Homo sapiens: one gene and its partner. The protein of the gene in region 1 purifies or fractionates together with the protein of each later gene. This does not show direct contact. Each region holds a gene or a part of one and is shown on either strand. Other genes may lie near its edges.

Region 1 (4,082 bases):
AGAAATAAAAACAACAACAACAACCAATAATTGAAAAACTAATTTTATACTTTTTGGCATACTCATTGTACACTTGTAATAAAAACTGGGCTTGTAGTTTTTGTCTCTTTTCTTATTTGCTAGCAGGTTTTGATTTGTATTTTACAGAAATAATGGTCCATGTCAGATTGGAAATAATAAAAACTTGTCTTTTACCCTTGATAGTTTGAGAAAAAAGTAATTCAGTGGGGTTAGATATGGCATCCGAGAGATGATTCGGGAAAGGTGGGCCAGGGCCATGTTTATGTGGACCCTCCAATGCCTCAGAGTTCACACTTGTTTCAGTGGGCAACAGGACTAGTAAGGTTTAGAGGGACTGTTAACCGAAGGTGAGTGGACTTTGCACATTTTATGGTATTTTTTTTTTCCCAGTAGGCATGTGCTTATTCTTTCTTTTCTTTTCTAATTAAAAGTTCTGTTTGGTTTTTTTAGTTAAGAGGAGAGACTGGAACTGCTCAGTGTTTCACAAAGATAACTGTTTGTATTTGATAAGAGTTTCGTTAAACAAAGGAATTTGCACTTATCAAAACATAAAGCATTGAAAACACTGAGCACATACTCTGTGACCAGAATGCGTGTGACTTGTTGAGATAAGCCACACCGGGTAATCAGATGAGTCTCCTTTCTTCTTGGGCACCCTCATATAATTCAGGCACAAACGAAAGAGAAAACGCTTTTTCTGATCTCTCAGTTCGGGTCATCTCTGCCTTCCATCATCACCGCCTAACAATCCTACACCTGGCAGGGTGGGAAAACGGTTTAATAATCTCTTCCCTTTGGGAGGCGTTTGACAGCTCAGAAAGCATGGCCTTTACTCAGGCTCAGAGACACACAAAAACCTTTCACGTTTTCCTTTCAGCTTCGCAGCCCCGTCCTTCTCCACCTGCACGGGCACCCACTGAAGCACAGGACCCTTCTGCCAAGCCATGAGCCTTCTCAGGCCCCTGCCGCCCGCCTCGCCTGAGGCTGCGCTTCTGAAAAGCACGCGGCCCTGGCCTGCGCACCACCCAGTCTGAAGGCGACGCCCCTGCACGAAGGAGTCAGGCCTAGGGGCTCGGGACCCAGGGCGACACTCAATTTTCTAACAGGAGCCACAGCCCAGAAGCTGAGAAGCCTTCCGGCCGATCTGTGGCCCTGAGGTCGCCCTTGGAGGGCGAGTGAGAACCCCCCAGGCGTTCCGGAGGTGGCCCCCAGCCCGAACCCGGCGCCCGCCCCGGCTTCCCGAGTCAGGTCTTTGCCCCGCCTCTCGGCCCCGCGGCCTGGCCGGCAAGCAGGGCTGCAGTCACGGGGCGGCGCGGAGGGCCCCAGCCCAGTCAGGGGTGTGGCCGCCGCCACCGTAAGGCTAGGCCGCGAGCTTAGTCCTGGGAGCCGCCTCCGTCGCCGCCGTCAGAGCCGCCCTATCAGGTGTGTTTGCAGCCGAACTGGCAGTGCCCGCGGGCGGCTGGGCCGAGGCCTTGGCTCCTACCCGCGGGGGTCGGGCGGGCTGAGGCTGGAGCAGGCCAGGGGCGGGGGCAGAGGGGGACGGACTTCCAGCATCGCTCATTCGGGGGCGTGACGGGAGGACCTGGCTGGGGAGCGGCGGGTTGGGAGCCTGTGGCTGCCCCTTCGGTGACAGTGGAGTCACCGAGCCTAGAAATGGGGAAGCTGTGACGTGGGGGTGGTGGAGGGTGCTGCGGGACAGCAGCGAGCACGGCCCTCAGCCGTCCTTCCCAACACGGTTTCACTTCCCCTCAGCTCCAGGGCTCAGCCCCAAGCCGCCCCCTTCATCCCCCATCTGCAAACAATCCTGGTCCCCCTGAGCCTCCAATATGCCTTATGCAGTTCTTTTGGGGTTCCTTTCGCATTTTACCGTGTACTTTCGCTTTTGATGCGTCTAGTTTCTGCTACTGGACTCTCCTAGAATCGAAGTTCCATGAGGGCAAAGTCCCATCTGACTTAGGACTCAGAGCTACTCAATAAGTAATTGAATGAGTACCTATGCCGTAGAACTGAGTGAATTAACAAATGAGTAAGTGAATAAATGAGTGCATACGAGATACAGCTGAATCAATCAGTGCATGAGTGAAAATAAAGATGTATGAAGTGGAAGCAGTGGAGACGCAGGCTTACAACTCCTGTTTTTTGATAGCTTTCCAAAAAGTTGTGTGAATGTCGCACTTTTGCAAATGGAGGCATTCTGATTGGGACCACTTAAAAAGAGTTCTATGCTGTTCAAATGGTCTCTGGAAACGCCCCCTGGTATTTCCATTTTTGTTGGACTTGGCTATATGTGTTTGCTTAAAACAAAATATGCCTAGGTTTTTTCTTGCTTGTGTTTTGTTCACTTCTACTTTGGACGTTTAAAGAATCATTGTCACTATAATATTATTTCATGTATTTCTTAAAGATAAGGGTGACTCTGAAGGCAGAACCATATGACTCTGACTTGTTTGTAAAACCAGGCTTTTCTTTTGAATTCAGAGTTGTTAAGAATCTTGTCTGTTTTCCTGAGACAGGTGCTGGCTGATTTGCAGGTGACTGAAGAAGGCTACATAAGGCCCAGAAAGACGCTTATCTGTTTGTAAACAAATAGGCTTAGCACATAGCTTTAATACAGTTGGTCACTGCAGCCGTTCTTACTTGCCAGGTCCAGGTTCCAGAAGAGCTGGATGACCTTGGACTTGCCACTTGATCTCTTTAGGTTTTAATTTCTTAATCTCCAAAATGAAGATGTTTAGCTAGGAACCCTGCCTGAGTTAAACCTCTGGGATTCTTTTGTATCAGGGTTAGAAGGTGAAATTACAGATGATTTCATGGAGTTCTGCTTACTTCACCTCCCATAGCATTTTGTCTCTGCTCTCTTCTTTGCTGTTTACAGCTCATTTCCTTTCTTCTCCACATCTGCAACAAGAAAGCCTGGGAGCTCAAGATAAGTGTAATAAACCCTAGGCTGGTGGGGAGAAAGGAGGGTAAGATTTTCTTCTACATTGTCACAGGCTCCTGGTCCTGGGTCTGACTTTTTTCCAGTGCAACCCAGTCTGACAATGCCATATATTCCCAGTATATCTGGGGAACTGCATCACTATTTCTTCGCATGCATTTGAGATTAGTTATCATAGATCACATTTTGGAGCTGGAAGGACCTTGGAGATTTTTTAAAGGCACTTCAAAAGTCATTATACATACATATTTAAATATTTTTGCATGCTACATTTAACAAACACAAAGTTCCAAATGTGTTAAGTAAAATGAAATTAATGTTACCTACTTCAGTGAATTCAAGTTTATAAGGAGAAGTGGAATACACATGTTGCTTGGTGAAAAGGGCCAACTTTCTCACACTGTTTTCCCAATGAGGTCATGTGTCATACAGGCATGGAATGTTACAAAGCTGATATTTATGGGGCACTGACCATACACCAGGCACTGTTATATTTAACCTTTTTACTTATATTGCCCCATTTAATCATCACTATATATCTAAGAGCTAGATACTATGGTAAGTCCTATTTGATCTTCTTAACTAGAAACAGTACATGGAAAATGGGAGAGTTAGGACTCAAAACTCAAGCAGATGGAAACAGGGTTTCTCCCAGAAACAAGACAATCCTGCCAGGAAAAACTGTGTGACTTTGAAGAATGTGGTCTCTGTGTGTGTTCAAGCATATATACAAACCCTGGGTTATTTGGGTAAATGAATTTAGAATGAGAGCACAGGGTGAAATGATGAAGACTGAATTATAGGGGAGTTGGTTGTTTTATCATTTTGAAAATTATTGAATTCCATTGAGATTCCAGGAGACTCTGATACTTTGACCTAGGTGCCCATGCATCTTAATTTTAAATGTGTTCAGACTTACCAATTTAGGGAATATAAAATGAGTGACATCGACAGCTGCCATCAGTGAATGGCACTTAAGGGCTTTGAACCATGAGTGCTAAGCAGTGTTGTTTCTTGGACTAGCTTTGTGCCCTTGGTAAGGCACTGCCTCCCAACCTCTTTCTTTATAAGACCAACAACCCCTAGTATAGACAAAGAACAATGCCTACATCTGTGTAATCCA
Region 2 (2,619 bases), on another chromosome or scaffold:
GCTTGATATCCTTTAAAATTATTTTCATTGATGGAACTGGAGTTGTTGGAAAAACATAGATTTAAAATGATTTTTGATAGCTGACATTGTGATGTTGATGTATCACATCAGTAATAGGACCAGCTTTGAATTTCTGACATTGGTGTGGGGATACAGTCTGTAAATGTTTATTGAGAACATCTTGCACACAATTTGAATTATGTAGAATGTCAATCAAGTTTTTGTATATTTAAAAGTTGGACATCAATTTTTTCCCCTGATTTCATCAAGTTATCTCTGCCAAGTGCTCTTGATAATTTCTTCAGATTTTTGGAAAAAAACACTATATAAATGCAATCCATGCTTTTTTTAAAGAACAACATTGCCAGAGTATGCTTGTTCTAACAATATAGATATATAAACCTTAAAAATAATAAAATATCTCACCCAAGACTTAAAGGAAGAATTCTCTGAAGGGATAAAGATTACTAAAAAAAAAAAAAAAAAAAAAAAATTAATGGGGTGCCTTTTTGTTATAGTTTCTATTTTCTGTTTTGTAGGACAAGCTGCATTTTCTGTAAATATAGGTCTGGACTAAAGGATACATAAAGAATGCACAAAATGTCAACATCAGCAGAGATGCCCAGATCTATTTATCTCTAAGTATATTTGAAGTGATTGCTGTTTATATGTTGTCATTTTAAAATTGTGTGTCAGTAAAGCTACCTGTAAAATTTCAGTCCAAAAAAATAAAGCTCTCAGGGAGACATGAATAAAATCAATGAACATTAGAAAATAAAATATAGATGCTTACCATTAACCTACCAACTCTTAATATCCTTAAATTATGTGATATATAAAGAGGACTGTTACTTTTTTACTTTTTTTTTTTTTTTTTTTTTTTTTTGGCTTTGCTTTATTTATTTGTAGTTGGGGGCTAACGTTTTCTCTTTTCTTTCTATTGATCCTGTTGTGGTTGGGTTTCCTGTGGAGAGAGTAGTTTGTCCTGTTGCACTAGAACATTATTTACTCACTAAATTGAGTTTTTCAGTCAATTAACAAATATTTATTAAGTTCCTACTATGTACCAGGCATAGTAGGGCTACAATGGTAAGCAAGACAGAGTCCCTGCCCCCAAAGAGCTTATATTCTAATGGGGATATTAAGGGATGAATAGAATACCAATGTGTGCACTGTACAGGAATCATACTATTTAAAAATAATTTGTATAAACTATAATGCTTAGCACAGATGGCGAGTTATCTGTGCTATGTGAAAGCTGTGAAATAGTGCTCTAAGAGTTGTCAAGAGCTGTGGTTTTACATCTTTTCCTCATTGCAAATTTAGTGACTTTCTACACACTATATGGAAATAAATGACTAGCAAATAAAACAGTCATAAATACAAAGCAGAGGTTGCACTCCCCCAATCCCGAGTTAACCCAGGTCTGCAATAACACCATGTTAAAGGTGCAGATAGAGACTTGGCTCAAAAAGGCTTGGAGATGAGGAAGATTGGAATATAATGATGGTTTTGTCTGTTCCTTAACTAAAGTGCCTCTATGTATATTCTTTTCTATTTGTAGCAGGATAAATTTGGTCTGGCTCAGTTTTGGAACTGTATTTTGAAAATGGCTTTGTCTTACAGTTTAAGGAATAGACAGGTGGAGGGAAAGTCACATAAAGGAGCAAGTTTGTGTAGCTGTCCCTCTTGCCCCTTTTAATCATCCTCCTTTGATATGGCCATCCTGGTGGGCCTCCTTTGCCATTTCCATTTTTGGTTTCTTTCCCTGAAAACTGTGTGCAGGTAATTCCATGTGCCATTGTTGAAAAGAAAAAAAAAAAACAAAAAAAAAACCTACTTTTTAGATTGGTGCTGGTGTAAGTAGCCACTTTTCTCTCTTGGGTGTGTATTTTAAACTTTTTTTGTTTTTTTAAATTAATGCCAAAAAGAAAATGCATAATTTGTAAACTTAATTATATGTCTTATATCTTATTAGCTTAGTAGTTGGAACCACTTAGTCTTTAGGTGCAAGACTGTTGTTAGATAGTACTGAGAAAAAAAAAGTATGTGTTATGAGACTGTACATGTTTTTTTAAAAATAGCAATATGCAATAAAGAGATGAATTCATTGGGTGTACATATATGCTTTCTATGAATTATTAAAACAGTGTCATCAAACTGCTTTGCAGTTTCCACCATTGAATTTCAATTTTGCAAATTGTTCACTGAATCGGAAATATATACCTGTTTTTAAACTTGTACTTACTGGACCTAGAAGAATATAGTTTTCTATTATGGCAGCATTCAGTATGTTCAGGTTATCATATGCCACCTCTTTCTATACTTGGTTTATGTATGAGTTATACAATTTCTTGTTATAACTCATGTATGGTAGGGCTACTGGTGAAATTATTCAACTAGAGTAGAGAAAATAATCTCTAGTCTCTAGAATCAAAGCCTTTTTGTTTTGAGGCATGTTTTTCTTATTAAAAATTAACTTGATATGGGTCAGTATGGGAAATGGCACCCATACAGATCAAGAAATTTGTTTATCAGTATCCTCTGAAAGTTGAAGCTTTCCCTTTGTCCTACATCACATTTGCTGCCTAGCCACCCTTAGCTCAATTTAAGTTCACG

The links. Proteins that work in one complex are often made in the same cells at the same time.
Region 2: the proteins of CPQ (region 1) and DAAM1 purify together in Homo sapiens (affinity purification with mass spectrometry; one large-scale study listed by BioGRID and IntAct). This does not show direct contact.

Annotation. Positions count from the first base shown.
Region 1 is NC_000008.11:96,643,960-96,648,041, forward strand, and holds the start of CPQ (carboxypeptidase Q preproprotein), read left to right. Parts: upstream 1-1,282; 5' UTR 1,283-1,443; intron 1,444-4,082. UniProt on the Homo sapiens protein: Carboxypeptidase that may play an important role in the hydrolysis of circulating peptides. Catalyzes the hydrolysis of dipeptides with unsubstituted terminals into amino acids.
Region 2 is NC_000014.9:59,369,285-59,371,903, forward strand, and holds the end of DAAM1 (disheveled-associated activator of morphogenesis 1), read left to right. Parts: 3' UTR 1-2,119; downstream 2,120-2,619. UniProt on the Homo sapiens protein: Binds to disheveled (Dvl) and Rho, and mediates Wnt-induced Dvl-Rho complex formation. May play a role as a scaffolding protein to recruit Rho-GDP and Rho-GEF, thereby enhancing Rho-GTP formation. Can direct nucleation and elongation of new actin filaments.